Linked DNA regions of Homo sapiens. The protein of the gene in region 2 purifies or fractionates together with the protein of the main gene of each other region. This does not show direct contact. Each region holds a gene or a part of one and is shown on either strand. Other genes may lie near its edges.

Region 1 (3,747 bases), on a different chromosome or scaffold from region 2:
AGGACTAGGTTTCTCGAGTTTGTACCTCTTGGTCTTCACAAGTTGACAAAAATGCTCTTTGACAGCCAGGTGTGTATGTGTATGTGCATGCACATGCACATATGTGTACATGTATCATGTTTTTTCCCCTAGACCTCTGCATGTTGCTGCCCGAAATGGGCTAACAATGGTGGTTCAGGAACTTTTGGGAAAAGGAGCAAGTGTGCTTGCAGTAGATGAAAATGGTAAGTTGGTTCTATATTCTCTTCCCTTAACCTAGAGCTTTTATCTTTTGATCCATATTTGAAGAGAAATAAACTTGGATATTTTTTATTGGTCAAAGAGGAGAGCTAAAGTTAATATTGAAGAGTAGTTTGTGGCAAAGGAATAAGGGCAAAAGAAATAGGAAAAGTTATCTAACAGATGTACTTCCGAATTCCTATATCATCTGTTACAGCAAAGTTAGTATTTACTGTTTATACTTGCCACTTTCTGTTGTTTTAGTAGCCAAAGATTTTGTTCTTTCAGCAAATATGTATCAAGATCCTAGTTAAGTACTAATATTCTTATTTAAAGCCAGTGTTTCTACTCATGCACTAGATCCTGTCCCCTTTTGCCTACTTCATAATGTCAGTTTGACAGTTCTCTTTTGTGTCCTGGAGTAACATTTTTCGCTCTCTTCCTGTATTATTCCTCTCAGTATATAAACATTAGTTCCCTCATCCTTAAAAAATAATTTATAAATCTCACTGCTCCTGCCAGCTACTGCCATATTTCTCTGTCCCCTTTTGCAGCAAAACTACTCTCTTGCTGTCCGCAGTTATTCCTCTCATTCTTCCATTCTTTTGTTGTTGTTGTTGTTGTTTGTTTTTGAGACGGAGTCTAGCTCTGTTGCCCAGGCTGGAGTGCAGTGCCATGATCTCGGCTTACTGCAACCTCCGCCTCCTGGGTTCAAGCGATTCTCATGCCTCAGCCTGCCCAGGTAGCTGGGATTACTGACACCTGCCACGACGCCTGGCTAAATTTTGTATTTTTAGTAGAGACGGAGTTTCACCATATTGGCCAGGCTGGTCTCAAACCCCTGACCTCAGGTGATCTGCCTGCCTTGGCCTCCCAAATTGCTGGGATTACAGGTGTGAGCCACAGCGTCCAGCCTCATTCTTCCATTCTCTCTTAATTTCCGTATAGTCAGGCCTTCTCCCCCTCACCCCTACACATAGCAAAACTGTTCCCATCAAAACCACCAATGACTTCTACTGTGTTAACTACTACTTAGCTCTCATTTTACTTGATAGATCAGCTTTTGGCACAACTGATCGTTTCCTTTGATAAATTTTTTTACTCTGCTTTTTGAACCCCACTCTTCCTTGGTTTTCCTTCTACATTACTAGTTATTCCTTCTTAATTTCTTTTACAAAATTTCTCCCTCTTCTTCTAGGACTCAATTCTTCGTTCTTTTTGCTTTCTCTATCTACATTGACTCCCTAGTGCTCTCATCAGTTCCTTTGGTTTTAAATACTACCTATAATGCTGAGGATTCCCAGATTTATATCTCCAGCCCAGACTTCTCACAGTCTCTATATATCCACGTGCCTAATTGACACATCCATGTGGATGTCTGATAAACAGCTTAAACCTAGAATGTGCAGAACTGAACTGTTGATCCTTTCCCACTCCCCTTGCCAGACCTACTCTCCCCACAGCATCATGCTCTCTCCATTGAAGACAATTCTCATTCTTAACAGTGGCTCAGGGCAAAACCCCTAGAGTCATCCTTGATTCCTCTCACTCATACTCAATGTATAGTCCATCAGCATATACTATTGACTCCACCTCTAAAGTAGATCTAAAGTATGCCCACTTTTTTCTTTACTGCTACCAGACTGACCTGGATCCTTTTAAAGTATATGAGAACATGTTACTCTTGAATTTCGGTTCTTCTTCTTTTTTTTTTTTTTTTTTTTTTTTGAAGAGGCAGGGTCTCACTCTGTTGCCCAGACTAGAGTACAGTGGTGAGATCATAGCTGATTGTAACCTTGAACTCCTGGGCTCAAGAGAACCTCTCACCTCAGCCTCCCAAGTAGCTAGCACTATAAGTATGCATCACCAGGCCTAGCTAATTTATTTTTTGTGCTGACAGACTCTCACTATATTGTCCAGGCCGGTCTTGAACTCCTGGCCTCAAGCAATCCCCCCACCTCAGCCTCCCAGAGTGCTCCACCTGGCCCCACTCATAGTTCTTAAAATGACCTTACTAGGCCCTACATGATGTGTCCTCCACCTTGTTACCTTTCTGATATTATTTCCTACTCTTCTCCTTTCTCTACTTCATTCTGCCATGCCAGCCCCTCCATAGCAGGGTTATACATGCATTGTGATCTTCATTCTGGCTGTTTACTCTGCCTGAACACTCTGTCCCCAAACATCCCATGACTAAATTCGTCACCTGTTTCAAATCTTAGCTCCAGTTTCATCTTCTCAATGAAGCATATTCTAACTATTCTTTACTACAACTTGCTAGATACCCCTACCATAGCATTCTCAGTCCTTGTTAACCTGCTCCACTCTTTCCTCTTTTTTTACATAAAGCTTTTAACATATTGTATATAATGTACTTTTTTGTTATGTTGATTTTGTGTCTTCTCCACTAAAGTGAATGTAAGCTCCACAAGAACAGTGAAATCTTTGTCAGTTGCATTCACTGATATATTCTTAGTGTTCTAAATAGTGCCTGAGCAAGTGGAGGCTCAGTGAATATTTGCTGCATGAGTGATTATGCCAAGCACTGTACTAACTTCTGATGATATAGTGTAAAATAAGACATAGTCTACTCCCTTGAATGGAGATAAGAGTGCAAACAGCCTATTAACGATGCACTTAAAATAGTTTAATTGGAATAAGCATAGAATGCTATGAGAGTACTTAAGAGGGTCTTCAAATCCTTTCTTGCAGGATCAGAGAAGGCATCCCAAAAAATGCAACTGCTAAGCCAAAATCCAAAGGATAAGGAGAAAGTGGGGGAGGAACTTTCTAAGCAAAGAGAGTGGCATGTTAAGAGATAAAACTGGCCGGGCATGGTGGCCCATGCCTATGGTCCTAGCACTTTGGGAGGCACAAGGCGAGTGGATCACCTGAGGTCAGGAGTTCGAGACCAGCCCCGCCAACATGGCAAAACCCCGTCTCTACTAAAAATACAAAAATTAGCCAGGTGTGGTGGCATGTGCCTGTAATCCTAGCTACTTGGGAGGCTGAGGCAAGAGAATCGCTTGAACCCAGGAGGCAGAAGTTGCAGTGAGCCGAGATCATGCCAGTGCACTCTAGCCTGGGTGACAGAGCCAGACTTCGTCTCAAAAAATAACCCCCATGCAGAGGAGAGGAGCCTGTTTTTAGTCATATTCTGACTAGAAAACACACCTGAAACAAGCTTCTTTCCCCACTCCCGCTCTCATCCAAGGCATCCTGGCCTATGTAATGGGTTGTTCTGCCTGCCAGCAGCAGGAACAGCAGCAGGCACCTTTAGAAGAACCCTTGAAAGAAGTGTGGGCAGTGAAGCACTCCCCCAGCTACTTTGAACAAATAAAATTTAATTAAAAATACGGACAGCCTTCAGCCACTGCTGCCAAACTTGGAAGGACATCAGTTGTTCTCTTTGACCCTTGACAAAATGGGAACTTTACAAAGGGGGAAAAATTACTTTTTGTGGCTGGGCACAGTGGCTTACTCCTATAATCCCAGCACTTTGGGAGGCAGAGGCGGGAAGATCACTTA
Region 2 (3,747 bases):
GTAGTATTCAGTATAGTAAAATGCTGTACAGGTTTGAAGCCTAGGAGCAATTGACTATTCCATCCAGCATAGCTGTGTAGTAAGCTATACTATCTGGTTGTGTACAAGTACACCCTATGATGTTCTTACAACTGCATCGCCTAAGGATGCATCTCTTCAACTTCTCACCGTGGTTGAGGGATGCATGACTATATATATTTTCAATTTCCAATCAGCTAGGAATCACATTCCTGTAACTACTTGATTGGATATTTTTGGTTGTTTGTTCACCAGTATAGCAGGCAGGCTTTTAAGAATAATAAATCCATAAATTAGATTAAAATATTGGACCATATTAATGGTTGGTGCTATCAGGAATGGAGACTTACTAGGAAGAGTTTAGCGCATGTTGGAGGAAACTCAGGAAAAAAAAAAGGCCAAAAGTAACACCTGTGAAGTAAGGTGAAAGCGCCTGGAGCTATTTAGCCAGAAATGAGTTGTGGTATAATAACTGTCATAGATATGTATCAGAACATGACTAATTGTTGTTCGTCTTTGCTGAAATCTGAAAAGAAAAAAGTTCAAGGGTAGTTTAAGTGATGTATGTTTAATACTGAGAAGAAGAGCCATGACAGCTGATGGACAGGACATAAGAATGCTTATCATGGGATACATCTCTTGGGAAGAGAAAAAGGGCTTTTACATGTAGCAGTCTTCCCTGTCATGAATGAGGACAGGTCCTGCCTTAAGGCAGAGGGTTTACTAGTTGGCTTCCACAAGGCCCTTCTAGAACTGTAATTCTGAGCCACTTCAGATGCTGAGATTGAACTCGACACAGCCAAGTATCTCCTCTTTTAGGAGCTCCAGCAGTGCCGAGGAGGCAGTGCCACCAGCAGCGACGACAGCATTTATTCCAACTGAAGACTTCACTCAAAGGTGAGTCAGGTCAGTGTGGACCTGGGCGCTTCCTTTTCCTCCAGCTCTCACTGGGTCCAGGCACAGGAGCCCTGAGGGATCGGCGACCACAGTACTCCCTCCCCGGCCACCAATATAAGCTTTGACAGAGGATGGCTGGTTAGCTGGTGTTAGGTGGGAGGGACTCGCCACGGAGACGCGCTCAAGGAGGGATGAGTTGCGCCACCACCACCTAGGTCCCTCTCTCGCTATCCGGCGGGGCCGCCCGGACCCAGGTGCTGCCAGGGTACGCCTGGCGCCCGCCATCCCAGAGCAGCGTCCCGCTGCGCACGGTCTCCCTCCAGCTCCGGTCCCCGCGGGAGGGCGCGTGGGATGATGCGCGGGTCCTTGTGCCTTCCCCAAGCTCCAGCATCCGGAGCCGCCCTAGCCGGCACCGCGGCAGCCACAGCCTGGGAGAGAGAAAGGAAAGAGGGAGGGCGGCGGGAAAGGCTCGGCGCGGGAGGAGGGCGGGTGAGGAGGGAAGGAGCGAGGGGGAGGGAGCCTCTCTCCTCAGCGGTGCAGCTAGTCTCCCTCCAGCGGGCGGCGACTCCGGGTTCCCCCTCGCGCCCTCTCGCAGAGGCTCGCCCCCTTCCCCGCCCACCGTCCCTGCGAGCGCGGGCGGCGGCGGTGGGCGTGTGCGCGCGTGAAGGACGCCGCCTCTCTCTCGCTCCTGCGTTCGCAGGCGGCGGCTGGCGGCCGGCTTCTCGCTCGGGCAGCGGCGGCGGCGGCGGCGGCGGCTTCCGGAGTCCCGCTGCGAAGATGCTCAAAGTCACGGTGCCCTCCTGCTCCGCCTCGTCCTGCTCTTCGGTCACCGCCAGTGCGGCCCCGGGGACCGCGAGCCTCGTCCCGGATTACTGGATCGACGGCTCCAACAGGGATGCGCTGAGCGATTTCTTCGAGGTGGAGTCGGAGCTGGGACGGTAAGGCGCGGGCTCCGGCTGGGGAAGCCCGCGGCGTGCACTGGGGGTTGTCCCTCTCGCAGCGACGGCTCGGAGGGTGCGGGAGCCTGCCTTCGTGCCCTTCGATTTCTCCCTACCTAGTTAGTGTCTTGAGAGAGAGCTAACCTTCATTCAGGTGCGGCTCGAGTCCTTCCCACCCCACCAGAGCGCCTAGGCCGGTGCAGCTGTAGGATCAGCCCGACTCCCTCCCACCTTCCCTCCTTCTCGCAGGCTGCCACTTCCCTTGGGTGACAGCTCCCACCGCACGTGGGCCCTGCTTTCCCAATTGATATCTTTGCTCACGATTATAGCTTGCCAGAGGGTCCTGTTTGTCTAGTTATTGTTTAGGGTGGGGGCCGGAGGGTGCCCCTCCAAATCAAGACAGAATTATTAAGTTAGATTCCTCCTCCTTCCCCTCGTCAAGCTCTCCAAAGCAAGTGACACGAGAAATTAAACTTAAATACTAGCTTCCCTGCAGAGTCTGCTCAGGAGTGAAGGGAGAAATGAATCATTTAAGAGAGTTGAAGGCAGAATAATGAACTAGTGTGGCTTTAAAGAGAAAGCAGCATATGGGATCCAGGCAGTGGTAATTAGTGAGAATGCTGCTGCTTCCCTTCTTTCATGGGCTGGAGTGATTTATTTAAATTATATATGCAACAGACCATCTCCCTAGGATTGCAGATATGTCCCCTATCCCTCCTCTGAAGATCCAAACAGGTAGCAGTTTGGCCTTCTGCATGATTCCATATGCTTTCGTATTTGTATCCATTGAAAATTATAGTTTTCTTTCCCTTACTTCCTTTTTTTTTGTCTTTTCTCTCTGTTATCCATAGGTAAGGAGATTTATTTTCAACACTTATTTTAGATCCAGGCTCTTTAGTATAGGGAATCTGAAGATGTAATTTCAACGGTTGACAAGTTGCAGCTTCTGTACTTACTACTCCTTTGCAATTTCATTTTTCATTCTCTTTTTGCTGGAAATAGTATTGCTAACAGCCTTTTTATTTTTTCAAGTCATTGGAGGATCCAGAGCAGGATTCTGGATGTTGGTATTTAGTGGGAAGATGTAATGATCACTGCCCACTCTCCCCCCACTTTGCTAGTACTATTGAAGGCTCATTGAATATAGATGTGTAAAATAGGCAAACTTCTGAATGAAAATTCAGTGATTTGTCACTGTTAAAAATGTTTTGAAGTATTTGAGCACTGAATAATGTATACATAAACATCCATTTTTGATCAAGTTTTTCAGTATTCATCTGAAGATCTATTATATATATAGGTGGAAATGAAAGGACAATGATGTCGATTTTTGTAAGGTCCAAAACATGCCTGTTATTAATTGTATGATGCGTGACAGTGGAACCATGTAAACCTCTGAGTAAAGGGATGATCTACTTAAAATTGTTTACTGGGTGTTTTATAAACTACTGTGTAGTAGAGGAAGTGCCTGATGCTGCTGCAGGGACTGTCCCAGTAGCACATCTGTTTTCAGAGTAACATTAACCCTAGATGCCTCAAATAGGCTGACTTATCCACACACGTTGTCTTTATGAATAAGCTTCATCGTCATGAAACTCAAGAAATTCACTTTAATTTGAAAAATGGGAAAAAAATAAACTGCCAATTGTATACCCCTATGAGATGGTAGCCTGCATAGGAAAAAACTGAGAAATTTGAAGTTTGGGTTTTTTATTTTTCAGTTCAGAATTACGTGTTGCAGTAAATTTTGGAGGACAAATATTAATCGGTTATACAGAAGCTTCTCAACTTATGATGGTGTTATGTCCCAATAAGCCCACTGTAGTTGAAAATATCAGAAGTTGAAAATGCATTTACTACACCTGTGCTAACAAACGTTGTAGCTTAGCCTAGC
Region 3 (3,747 bases), on a different chromosome or scaffold from region 2:
AGGTTCACCTCCAGAGCAAATGCCCGGCCCCTGCCCAGCATCCATGCCCCCGGCCCTCCTCCAGGTTCACCTCCAGAGCAAATGCCCGGCCCCTGCCCAGCGTCTGCGCCCCCGGCCCTCCTCCAGGTTCACCTCCAGAGCAAATGCCCGGCCCCTGCCCAGCATCCATGCCCCCGGCCCTCCTCCAGGTTCACCTCCAGGGCAAATGCCCGGCCCCTGCCCAGCATCCATGCCCCCGGCCCTCCTCCAGGTTCACCTCCAGGGCAAATGCCTGGCCCCTGCCCAGCGTCCGCGCCCCCGGCCCTCCTCCAGGTTCACCTCCAGAGCAAATGCCCGGCCCCTGCCCAGCATCCATGCCCCCGGCCCTCCTCCAGGTTCACCTCCAGAGCAAATGCCCGGCCCCTGCCCAGCATCCATGCCCCCGGCCCTCCTCCAGGTTCACCTCCAGAGCAAATGCCCGGCCCCTGCCCAGCGTCCGCGCCCCCAGCCCTCCTCCAGGTTCACCTCCAGAGCAAATGCCCGGCCCCTGCCCAGCGTCCGCACCCCCAGCCCTCCTCCAGGTTCACCTCCAGGGCAAGTGCCCGGCCCCTGCCCAGCATCCATGCCCCCAGCCCTCCTCCAGGTTCACCTCCAGAGCAAATGCCCGGCCCCTGCCCAGCGTCCGCGCCCCCAGCCCTCCTCCAGGTTCACCTCCAGGGCAAGTGCCCGGCCCCTGCCCAGCATCCATGCCCCCGGCCCTCCTCCAGGTTCACCTCCAGAGCAAATGCCCGGCCCCTGCCCAGCGTCCGCGCCCCCTGCCCTCCTCCAGGTTCACCTCCAGAGCAAATGCCCGGCCCCTGCCCAGTGTCCGCGCCCCCTGCCCTCCTCCAGGACACTTCTGTTTGAGTAGCACCTGCCACGTGCAGCAGGCTCACCCCAACCTCACTACCAAAAGTGCCACTGAGACAGATGAGGAAACAGACACTGCTCTCACTCCATTTTACAGACAGGGAAATGGAGGCAGAAAGGCCGTGGCGTGGCCTAAGTCCCGCTGGTGGCAGCAGTGGCGCAGGAGGTGAGCCCATGCTGCCAGCTACCAAGCTCAGGCTCAGCACCCCAAGGGGAGGGTTGGGCGGGACCTCCATGCTGTACAGCCCAGCTCGGCCTCTGCTTCCCCACAGCTGCACTCAGACCCCTCCCAGCTCCCTGGAGTCCCTCCTCATATCGCCCAGAGCCAGACAGTTCCCAGCAGGACAGCAAACGGGTGGGGATGGCTCTGGGCCCACGACAATAAGCGGGACATGTGTCCTGACCAGAGGGAGCACCCATTAAGCAGAAGATGGAAAGACCAAAATAACGCGTCCCTGTGTGCGAGTGCTGACGGAGGGCCCGAGTTCCTGGGGAAGATCAGGAACGGACAGCGGACCCACAAGAGGGCAAAGCCAGGCTGGGCGGGGGCCAGAGCAGGTGCCTGGTGGGGACGGGACCGCTTCCTGTCGGCTCCCTGTGTCCCCTCCCCAAGTAGCATTTGCAGCTGTCCGCCCAGTAGAAGGGCCCCTTGCACAGCAGCCCCAGAACGTGGAGCCACGTCGCACACCCTACACTCCACCCGATCCTGCAGTCCTGCACGCAGCGTCACCAGGGCTTGGGTGAGGTGCGTCTCTGCATCCCTGACTGGCCAGGCTGGGTCCCTCCACGTCCGAGCGGCTCTTACTGCGTGTGGTCGTTGGCTTCCCAGGCCTCCAGGATCCTCTGCACCAGGCAGCACTTCTGGAACAGCTGGGGGGCGGGGCAGGGGGACAGCGTGAGTCAGGGTCTGAAGGCGGCACGCACCCCTCCACCCATCCCTGGACTGGGCAGGGCTGGCTGGCGGCCACGTCTGTGTGGACTTTGCAGGCCCTGACTGCTGCGCACGCACAGCCCCAGCCTCCGCGGTCCTCACCAAACACCAGAGGAGGGTGCGGTTCGGGGCTCATACTGCTGAGCGCCCTAAAGATGAAGCCCGAGAAAAGGACCCTCTCCCTTCTCCTCCAACTCCTGGAATTGCCCCCTGACCCCTGTCTTCCCCTGGGCCTTCTCCCCGTCTCTCCATTGCCCTCCACTTTGGCCACTCTCCTGCCCTCTTTCTCTGTGTCCGGAAGAACGACTAGGGCTGTCTGCCCTCAGCACTTTCTCTCACCTCCAGGCCCTGACACAGATCACTTCTTGTACCTGAGATGTTTTTCCTGGGCTCCACCTCACACTACGATATACCTGTGGCCTTGCTATCCGGGTGACAGTCCCTGGTTGGCCTGCATGTCCCTCAGCATCCCCTCCCCACCGTGTGGCTCCCATCACTGACACTGCTGGCTCCCTGGGCATTTATTCCCTGGGCCTCCAGCTGGAGGCCAGACTGAACTCATCTCATCCAGTGCTAACCCTTGCCAGGCCTGCACGTGGAAGGCACCAGTACCCCTGCTGAAGGCAGGTAGGAATGAGATCTGCAAGACCCACTCAAGCCCCACTGTCTACGAGCGTCTGACCAGACACCTGGGGACCCTTTTCAAAGCCCTGCCCCCGTGTCAGCTGCACAGTGAGGTCCGGCACACGTCAGCGCTGACATGGACACGGTCTGAGTGGGGCGCAGTTGGCGCTGATAAGATGGATGCTTCTTGGACTCACGTGGGTCACCATTGTGTTGTCAGGGAGGCTGGCGGCCGGCTGGGGAGTCTCCAGGCTCCGGTTCCCGTTCTCATGCGGAGGCTCCACCCTGCTCTCGGATCCGCTGGCTTCTGTCCTCTCCTCACGGGCAGCGTGGGAGAGAATAGCGGCTATGCATAGTTCCACTTGGAAGTGCAAAAAGTTATTCCAGGTGTACTTAAAGAACAAGTCCTGGGTAAACAGAGGACAGAAGACAGTTCTTAGATCGGTTTTCTCCTGCCGGCTACACCACAAAGCTGAGGGAAACCCTTCCTAAAGGTGGCGTCCTAACTCCTCACAAGTCCAGTCTCTGGGTAGCTAGGAAGGAGTTTTAAGCGTTTTCCTGAGGGTCATCTCTCTATTACGGAGCTTCTTCAAATAGCCACTGAGCACTTCTGCCTCCTGCCTGTGGGTGTCTGTTGGTCTCTGCTTCAATCTGAATCATCACCTTTCTACTTTCTGCGGGTTTATTCTTTTTTTTTTTTTTTTTTGAGACGGAGTCTTGCTTTGTCTCCCAGGCTAGAGTGCAGTGGCACGATCTCGGCTCACTGCAACCCCTGCCTCCTGGGTTCAAGTGATTCTCCTGCCTCAGCCTCCCTGGTAGCTGGGATTACAGGTGCCCACCACCATGCCCAGCTAATTTTTGTATTTTTAGTAGAGACGGGATTTTGCCATGTTGGTCAGGCTGGTCTTGAACTTCCAACCTCAGGTGATCTGCCCGCCTCCGCCTCCCAAAGTGCTGGGATGACAGGCATAAGTCACCAGGCCTGGCTTCTTTTGTCCTTCAGTTGGAAGCTCAACTCATTAATTGCAGCCTTTCTTTCCAGTCTGTCTTTAAAGGCTACATTTCCCTGTATACAATCAACTTTAACTACATTCTACACATTTTGCTAAGTAGTATTTTTATGATTCTTCAGTTCTAAGTATGTGAGAAGTTCCTTTATGATTCTGTCTTTCTCATGAATTATTGGAAGTGTGTTAGACTCTCAAGCACATGAGGATTCCACCCAGGATGGGCAGGCGTGTGCATATCGTCCACCACACAAACGTGAGACTGTGAGGGGCACATTCAGACACTCCCCAAGGGAG

What was found.
Region 1: the proteins of CAMK4 (region 2) and ANKRD28 purify together in Homo sapiens (affinity purification with mass spectrometry; 2 studies listed by BioGRID and IntAct, with this or other methods). This does not show direct contact.
Region 3: the proteins of CAMK4 (region 2) and PPP6R2 purify together in Homo sapiens (affinity purification with mass spectrometry; 2 studies listed by BioGRID and IntAct, with this or other methods). This does not show direct contact.

The regions. Positions count from the first base shown.
Region 1 is NC_000003.12:15,672,375-15,676,121, reverse strand, and holds part of ANKRD28 (serine/threonine-protein phosphatase 6 regulatory ankyrin repeat subunit A), read left to right. Parts: intron 1-132; coding exon 133-224; intron 225-2,931; coding exon of another isoform or gene 2,932-3,041; exon of another isoform or gene 3,042-3,747. UniProt on the Homo sapiens protein: Regulatory subunit of protein phosphatase 6 (PP6) that may be involved in the recognition of phosphoprotein substrates. Involved in the PP6-mediated dephosphorylation of NFKBIE opposing its degradation in response to TNF-alpha.
Region 2 is NC_000005.10:111,222,792-111,226,538, forward strand, and holds the start of CAMK4 (calcium/calmodulin-dependent protein kinase type IV), read left to right. Parts: upstream 1-1,592; 5' UTR 1,593-1,692; coding exon 1,693-1,853; intron 1,854-3,747. UniProt on the Homo sapiens protein: Calcium/calmodulin-dependent protein kinase that operates in the calcium-triggered CaMKK-CaMK4 signaling cascade and regulates, mainly by phosphorylation, the activity of several transcription activators, such as CREB1, MEF2D, JUN and RORA, which play pivotal roles in immune response, inflammation, and memory consolidation.
Region 3 is NC_000022.11:50,430,276-50,434,022, reverse strand, and holds part of PPP6R2 (serine/threonine-protein phosphatase 6 regulatory subunit 2), read right to left. Parts: intron 2,851-3,747; coding exon 2,641-2,850; intron 1,759-2,640; coding exon 1,694-1,758; intron 1-1,693. UniProt on the Homo sapiens protein: Regulatory subunit of protein phosphatase 6 (PP6). May function as a scaffolding PP6 subunit. Involved in the PP6-mediated dephosphorylation of NFKBIE opposing its degradation in response to TNF-alpha.